Linked DNA regions of Homo sapiens: all the other regions are linked to region 1. The links come from fine-mapping of genetic effects on gene expression. A gene starts in region 1. Each other region holds a variant in brackets. All regions are shown on one strand. Distances are between the middles of the regions. Region 1 holds the start of OSBPL6 (oxysterol binding protein like 6). Region 2 overlaps OSBPL6 (oxysterol binding protein like 6). Region 3 overlaps PDE11A (phosphodiesterase 11A).

Region 1 (2,855 bases):
TGTACTCTCATTTCCGTTCACACTTTTGTATTTCTTTTTAAATACATGGGTTTTAGCTTTTTTTCTTTTAAGGGAGAAAGCCATTTCAGTAGAGTTTCTGTTAATGGAACTCAGAAGGAGTAAGTAGAAAGGGTGGCTGTGATGAAGCAGAGGTCAGCATCCCAGCTGCTCCCTTGAGGAGCCTGTCTTCACAGCAAAGGAATGAAGGACAAACTGCCATTGTCGCAGGGTCCCGCATCTATTATTTTGTGACCAGAGGACATGAGAACATTGCTAGTCTAGATGGAAAAAGCTAATCCAACAGGTGAGATTGGAGATTCAAGAGAAACTGCATGTGGGAAGGAGTGCATAAAGTCGACTATGTTTCATAGCAAATCATTTTGTCAGCACAGGGCACAATGAAATGCCATCACAGTTGCCTCATTAGTAAGCAATATCTTCCATTTTTGAAGGCACCCCAGCATGTTCTGTAATAGCTCCCATTAAGTCCAGTCGATGTCCTCTGGACTCCCCCTCCGCCTCCCACCCCCAGATGATGATGACACAAATGTCTTGAAATATTGACATGTCCGCAGTCACTCGTTTACAGAATGTCTGTACAAATATTTACATTACCCCGTCCCTCCCAGCAAATTTGCCTTTAGATTAATCTGCACACCGAACGCAGGCCGGGAGTGGCTTGGAGTGTGGAAGGGTTTAAGGGTGTGGAAGGGTTGTAGTGAGGCGGGACTGACTGACTTTGATCGGCTTTGCCAGGGGCTTGAAGGAACCGGCTCTTCCTTTCGCAGAACCCAGGTGTTTCTCTGGGCCCGGGAAGTTTTTGCTCCCGAGCGAGTCAGGGACGGGAGCAGGCACGCACAGTCGCGTAAGTGTATGAAATGACGACCTCAGAAGGGCGCCCAGGGACATGGGTTTGGCAGCCCCGAGCGGAGGCCGCCAGGCAGCCGTTCCTTTCGGAATTCGGTCTCCCGCAGTGCTCCCGGCTGCGGCGCTCCTGGGCCGAGCGCTGGAGCCGTTCTGGGCAACCCTCCCGAGCGCGGCCGGCTCACCTCCGCCGGACTGCGCGGGGCGAGGGCTCCGCTACTGCGCGCAGGCCCGCGGATGGCAACTCGGGGTTTCCACTGCGGGTGATCTCGGGACACCACGGGTTCCCACGGAGGCCGGGCCAGGGGAGAGCCCTGGCTGTGGGACCCCGCGTGACCAGGGCGCAGGGCGCCGGGTCCTTAGCCCATCTGGCGGCGCAGGGAGGGGCGCCCGGTAGGGCGGGTGCGCAGCATGAGCCCCAGCCGCTTGCCGCTCCACTCCAGCCGGGCGGACGGGCGGGAGCCGGGGGCGGGGAACCCGGAGCGCCGCCCCGCCAGCGCGCCCCGCCCGTGGGAGAGGAGGGGCTGCAGCGCAGCGGACCACTGGAGGCGCAGCACGGTCGCCGCCGCCGCTGTCGGTGCTGGAGATCGCGGCTCGGTGCAGGCGGCGCCCATGCCTCCTCTCCTCCACTAGCCCGCGCGCCAGTCCGCCTGCCGGGGCCGGCTCTCCGCCTCCTGCCTCCCGTCGCAGCCGCGCAGCCGCCGCAGAGTCCGCGGCGCCACCGCTCGCCCTCCAGGTAGGTGTCCTAGCTGCAAAGGGATTGCTTGGGGCGGGCGCCAAGGTGCCCGCATCGCGGCCCGGGGGCATTGTGCGCCTCCGGCGGGCCGAGGACCCCGAGGGACGCGTGGGTGGGCAGCCGCAGCTTCGGGTCCCCAGGACATCGCCGTCCCCCTGGAGGCGCCCCCGGCCGATAGCCCGGGCTACAGGGAAGTGGGGGCGGCGGTGTCAGCCCATTCTCGCGGCCGGGATGGGAGGGGGCGTCTGTATCGCGGTCCCGGTTTGCCGCCCTCCCTCCCCCTCGTTGCCAGGGAATTCCGGCCGCCTGCCACTAGCGCTCGCATTCCCTCGCGCGGGCCGGCGCCCCTGCTCCCCGCAGGCTGCCTGGGGATTGAAGCAGGGGCAGGGAGAAGGACTGATGTAATTGTCAGCGGAAAACCGAACCGGCGCGGGTGAGAGCGCCCGCGCCCGCGAGAGCTAACGCCTACGCCGCACCTTTCAGGGAATCGGGGAAGCCGAGAGGAGCGGCTGGGGAAGTTGTGCATTGGGTTTTATTGTGCGCGTGCACTGCGGACTGCCCTCGCGGGGCACCCCTGCCCACCCGCTGCTGGCGCCCCTGCAGCCCTCCCGGCAGCCTCCGTCCACTCCCCCGGCCAGGGCCAAGTCTGCCTTCCCTGGTTCAGACCGGGACAGCGTTTGCATTGCAGTCAAGACGTGCTTCCCCTGCATCAAGCCGGGAGCTGCCCGCAGATCGTGTCGCCGGGGATGCTGGGGGAGGAGGGAATGGGAGACCTGAGGAGAAAGCCTGGAGAAGTAATGACACAAGCGGATTTTCTCCCCAAAGCTTCTGCTGCGTATAGACACATCTGCAAGGCACCTTTTAAGCTGTTTTTGAAAGTTATAACCAGATACTGATTTTGTGACAATTCTATGATATACCTGAACGGTTGCTTAAACATAGAGACCTAAAGCTAGGGGAAGCATTACATAATGGACATGAAGCAAATGACACGAAACTAAGTGAACCCACTGGGTTGCCAGATTATTTCTCTCTTCTGGACACAAAATCCTGTAAGGTTTTTTCTATAGGAACTTTCATTTTTAAATTGCTGGGCTAAGTTTAGCCAATTGTCTATTATATTCAGTTGTGATTTTTTTTTTCTAAATAATTTTCTTGGACATCTTTTCTTAAATTTAAAAATTGCATACTAATGGTTACATATCACTAAGCTGATTAGGAAATGTAGTCTTCACAAGGTAAAAATAAGAAATTT
Region 2 (2,855 bases), 110 kb after region 1:
TGTGCTTCTATAACAGAATACCCAAGACTGGGTAAGTTATAAAGAACATAAATTTCTTTCTCACAGTTCCGAAGGCTGGGAAATCAAGGCACCAGCAGGTTAGGGCCCTGTCTCTCTGCTCCCAAGAGGCACTTCAAATGCTGCATCCTCTGGAGAGGAGGAACCTCATGTCGTCATATGGCAGGAAAGCAGAAGAGAGAGAACCCACTCCCACAAGCTGTATCAGTCAATTCTCATGCTGCTAATAAAGACATACCCAAGAGCACCTAATTTATAAAGGAAAGAGGTTTAATTGACTCACGGTTCTGCATGGCTGGGGAGGCCTTAGGAAACTTATAATCATGGCAGAAGGGGAAGCAAACACTTCCTTCTTCACATGTCAGCAGCGAGGAGAAATGCCAAACAAAAGAGGAGAAAGCCCCTTACAAAACCATCAGGTCTGACCTCTCATGAGGACAGGATGAGGGTAACCGCCCCCAAGATCAAATTACTTCTCATCTGGTTCCTCCCATGACATATGGGGATTATGGGAACTACAATTCAGGATGAGATGTGGGTGGGAACACAACCAAACCATATCACAAGCTGTTTATATAGTGGCACTAACCTAGTCACAAGGGCTCCACCCTCATGACCTAAACACCTCCCATTAGGCCTCACTTCCCAATACTGTTGCGTTGGGGTTAGGTTTCTAACACATGAATTTTGGTGCACATATTCAGACCATAGCAACTGTCATGGCCTACAAGGTCCTGCAGGGACTGGTCTCTGCATTTCTTTGACCACCATATCGCCATATCTCTGACTCTAGTCATATTGGCTACCACTCATCTGTTGATCATGTCACGCCAGACACCCTGGTACTTAGTAAACCGCTCATTCTTTGGACCTCAGCTCTAACTCCCAGATCCATTAGTTCACCTCAGTCACTGTCTTCATAATGCCCATATATCTCCATCTTTTTTTGTTTATCTGATTCAGTGTCTCACCCTCTGGACTGAAGTTCAGGTCTCACTTTTTTGTGGCCTAAAAATTGATTTCTGTTTCCTGCTAGCAGCTTTCCTTCCCAGCCTGTGCTAACAAGCCTACACAAGTGTTCTGGTGTTCTGTACTTCCTCCAAGAAGATATTAGCATTAAGATGGGGGCTAGAATGTGACCTTCTTCTTGTAAGAGGATAAAGTTCACTTTAATTGTCTATCTTTTGGGAAATATCATTTTTTAAGCTTTTAATGTTATACCATAGTGCTTACCTTTTAACATTTTTTAGCATAGCTGTGTTGGAGACAAGGCCAATTTAAGAGCTTCTCTCTGACACAAGCTTTAACCTTAATACTAACAATGCAAACCTTCCTTACATGAATCCAAGTAAAAAAATTGAAGTGGCTGTTGGCTGTGCATAAGTGAAGGAACTCCATTTACCCCTGCTCTAAGATAACCTGTCAATCTGTAGATGTTTGCGAGCATGTTGGTTGTTGAGAGTCACATGTAGGCATGCTGTAGTTTTGAGGTACAAATAAATGTGGATATATGTATTCCTGGATCCTTCACAAATGCTGGATCACAGGATGCACACAATGTGTTAACTCTTTTGTAACTGACTACTTTGTGTTGGATTAACCGTCACATACATGACATAGCTAAACTAAACTGAAGACAAACATGGACCGAGCTCTTATTCTAGTCCATTGGGTAGGAGAGATTACGTTTCCGGAGGAGAATCTGGCGTCTTTAGCATCAGGGTCTCAAATATAGCGTTATAATCTGCTTTAAAACAAAGAAAATGCAAGAGGAGAGAATATGACTTTAGTACATGATTTCTTCCCATTTTGCTTGTTAACAGTCCTTTTTTTTTTTTTTTTTACACACTGA[C/T]ACTTTCATCTTCCGCCTTAAAATCTAGAGGAAGAAGTATTTCCTAATGTGTCAGAGTTCCTCCTCTCACTAACACAAATTAATATTTCATCCTAAAGATAATGATTTTAATTTGACTTTTAATTACTTATATGAGGCTTGTTTGTTTTGCTTTTAGGTGGTTTGGACACCCTCAATATTGCCTGCTCTTTTCTAGTCAAACCTGATTCATGAAATGGAATGAAGCTGAAAAATCATCTACTTCTTTGTTTGTGGATTTGAGAGAAGATTGGGATGGTCTTAAGTGCATAAAACGAGACTCTAACTGCAGCGATGAGTTCAGATGAGAAGGGCATTTCCCCTGCTCATAAAACATCCACTCCAACCCATAGAAGTGCCTCCTCTTCAACATCCTCCCAAAGGGACAGTAGGCAGGTAAGAGAAGAGCATTAAGTGCCTTTGGTTGTTTTATGCAAATGCAATACCACTGAGATAGGATGGGGTTGCTAATTAATTCTGAAATTTTGTTGTAAAGTCTTTTATTCCAAGTGAAAAATCGTCATTTTCTGTAGGTACGTTCATTGATGTCATGAAGCTCCCACTCTTGCTTCTCTGTGATTTAGGACTCTTTTTTAGAAGGCAGACACAGAAGGCTGGTAGGGTGGCTATGAGAAGCCCTGCCGTCTTTTCCTCCCTGCACCTGGAGGGGGAGCCAGCATCAAGAACTTGAACACTCTTCTCTTCGTTCATGGAGGTGGAAAGGGAACTGTGAACCCTGCAAAGGACGTCTTCCTATAAGGCTGTCACTGGGCTGCCAAGCCCTAACTCTGTTTGGTATTTTGTGGAATCTGGTAACAGCTAGATTCAGGAATTAGGTTACAGATAAAATTGTAATACCAGGAATTAAGAGCTGTGAGAACCCAAACAATGTTTACAGGCAACAGAGAAAGTAAATGGTTATTACTTAATCATGGTAGAAAACGCCCATGGTCCCATTTGAGCCAGT
Region 3 (2,500 bases), 260 kb before region 1:
AAATGAATATATTCTTGGAAACACACAATCTCTCAAGATTGAATCAGGAAGAAATTGAAACACAAAACAGACCAATATCAATATCTGAGATAGAATCAGTAATAAAAATCCTACCAACCAAATAAAATCTCTGGACCATATGAATTGAATTCTACCAGATGTACAAAGAAGAGCTGGTACCAATTCTACTATAATTAGTCTAAAAAATTGAAGAGGAGGGATTCTTCCCTAATTCATTCTATGAAGCCAGCATCACCCTGATACCAAAACCTGGTAAAGACACAATGAAAAAAGAAAACTACAGGACAATATCTTTGATGAACATAGACATGAAAATATTCAACAAAATTCAACAATACATAAAACCAAATTCAACAGTACATCAAGAAATTAATTTACCATAATCAAGTAGGCTTTATTTCTGGGATGCAAAATTGGTTCAACATACACAAATTAATAAATGTGATTCACCACATAAATGGAATTAAAAACAAAATCAAAAGATCATCTCAATAGATGAGGAAAAAGCTCTTGATAAAAATCCAACATCCCTTCATGATAAAAACCCTCAAGAAATTAGGCATTGAAGGAATATTCTTCAAAATAATAAGAGCCATCTATGACAAACCCACAGCCAACATCATACTGAACAGGCAAAAACTGGAAGCATTCCTCTTGAGAACTAGAATAAGACAAGGATCCCCACTCTCACCACTCCTATTCAACATAGCACTGGAGGTGCTAGCCAGAGCAACTAGGCAAGAGTTAAAAAAAAAAAAAGGCATCTGAACAGGAAAAGAAGAAGTCAAACTATCTCTTTTCGCTAATGATATGATTCTATACTTAGACAATCCTAAGGACTTTACCAAAAGGCTATTAGAACTGATAATTTTAGCAAGGTTTCAGGATGTAAAATTAATGTACAAAAATCAGTAGCATTTCTTTACACCAATAATGTATAAGCTGAGAGCCAAATCAAGAACATAATCCCATTTACAATAG[C/CCA]CACACACACACACACACACACAAATAAAATACCTAGGAATACATCTAACCAAGGAGGTGAAAGATCTTTACAAGAAGAACTACAAAACACTGTTTAAAAAGATCGTAGATGACACAAACAAATGGAAAAAAATTCCATGCTCATTGATTGGAATAATCAATATCATTAAAATGGCCATATTGCTCAAAGCAATCTATAGGTTCAACACTATTTCTATCAAACTACCAATGTCATTTTTCATAGAATTGGAAAAAACTAGGCTAAAATTCATATGGAACCAAAAAAGAGCCCAAATAGCCAAAGCAATCCTAAGCAAAAAGAACAAAGCCAGGCTGGGCACAGTGGCTCATACCTGTAATCCCAGCACTTTGGGAGGCCGAGGTGGGTGGATCACCTGAGGTCAGGAGTTCGAGACCAGCTTGATCAATATGGTGAAACCCCATCTCTACTAAAAATACAAAAATTAGCTGGGCATGATGGCTTGCACCTATAGTCTCAGCTACTCCAGAGGCTGAGACAGGAGAATTGCTTGAACCAGGGAGGTGGAGGTTGCAGTGAGCCGAGACCACACCACTACACTCCAGCCTGGGTGACAGAGTGAGACTCCATAAAAAATAAATAAATAAATAAATAGCCAGTGGTATTACTCAACTTCACACTATCAGACTATACTACAAGGCTATAGTAATCAAAACAGCATGTACAAAAACAGACACATAGACCAATGGAATAGAAAGGAGAATCCAGAAATAAAGCCACACACCTACAGTCACCTGTTGTTCAACAACATCAACAAAAATAAGCAATTGTGAAAGGACTCGTTGTTCAATGAATGGTGTTGGGATAGCTGGCGAGCCATGTGCAGAAGAATCAAACTGGACCCCTACCTTTCACCATATATAAACATTAACTCAAGATGGATTAAAGATTTAAATGTAAAACTTCAAACTGTAAGAATCCCAGAAGAAAACCTAGGAAACACCATTCTGAACACTGGCCTTGGGAAAGAATTTATGACTAAGTTTTCAAAAGCAATTACAATAACAACAACAAAAAAAATTGACAAATGGGATCTTATTAAACTATAGAGCTTCTGCACAACAAAAGAAACCATCAACAGAGTAAACAGACCCTACACAATGGAAAAAACATTTGCAAACTATGCATCAGACAAAGGTCTAATATCCAGAATCTAAGAGGAACATAAACAACTGAACAAGCAAAAAACAAATAACCCCATTTAAAAATAGGCAAAAGACACAAACAGACACTTCTCAGAAGAAGACATACAAGTGGCCAAGAAACATGTAAAAAAATGCTCCACATTACTAATCATCAAAGAAATGCAAATCAAAACCACAATGAGATACCATCTCACAGCAGTCAAAATGGCTATTACTAAAAAGTCAAAAAACAACAGATATTGGCCAGGCTGTGGAAAAAGGAGAATGCTCATACACTGCTGGTGGGAATGTAAATTACTGTAGCCACTGTGGA

The links. PIP is the estimated chance that this variant, and not a neighbour inherited with it, causes the effect.
Region 2: its variant is fine-mapped to the expression of OSBPL6 in whole blood (TOPMed, PIP above 0.99).
Region 3: its variant is fine-mapped to the expression of OSBPL6 in subcutaneous fat (TwinsUK, PIP 0.95).

What each region holds. Positions count from the first base shown.
Region 1 is chr2:178,193,075-178,195,929 of GRCh38, forward strand. OSBPL6 (oxysterol binding protein like 6) reads left to right here and starts at 1,438. Exons shown (of 25, transcript NM_032523.4): 1 at 1,438-1,600. RefSeq lists silencers at 992-1,681, 2,128-2,422.
Region 2 is chr2:178,304,003-178,306,857 of GRCh38, forward strand. OSBPL6 (oxysterol binding protein like 6) reads left to right here. Exons shown (of 25, transcript NM_032523.4): 3 at 2,028-2,284. The coding sequence starts at 2,183. Among named protein-coding and RNA genes, the nearest start is that of CHROMR, 110 kb to the right of the region's middle. The variant C/T (reference allele first, on the strand shown) is at 1,871.
Region 3 is chr2:177,932,066-177,934,565 of GRCh38, forward strand. All of the region lies in intron 2 of PDE11A (phosphodiesterase 11A), which reads right to left. Among named protein-coding and RNA genes, the nearest start is that of PDE11A, 140 kb to the right of the region's middle. The variant C/CCA (reference allele first, on the strand shown) is at 1,003.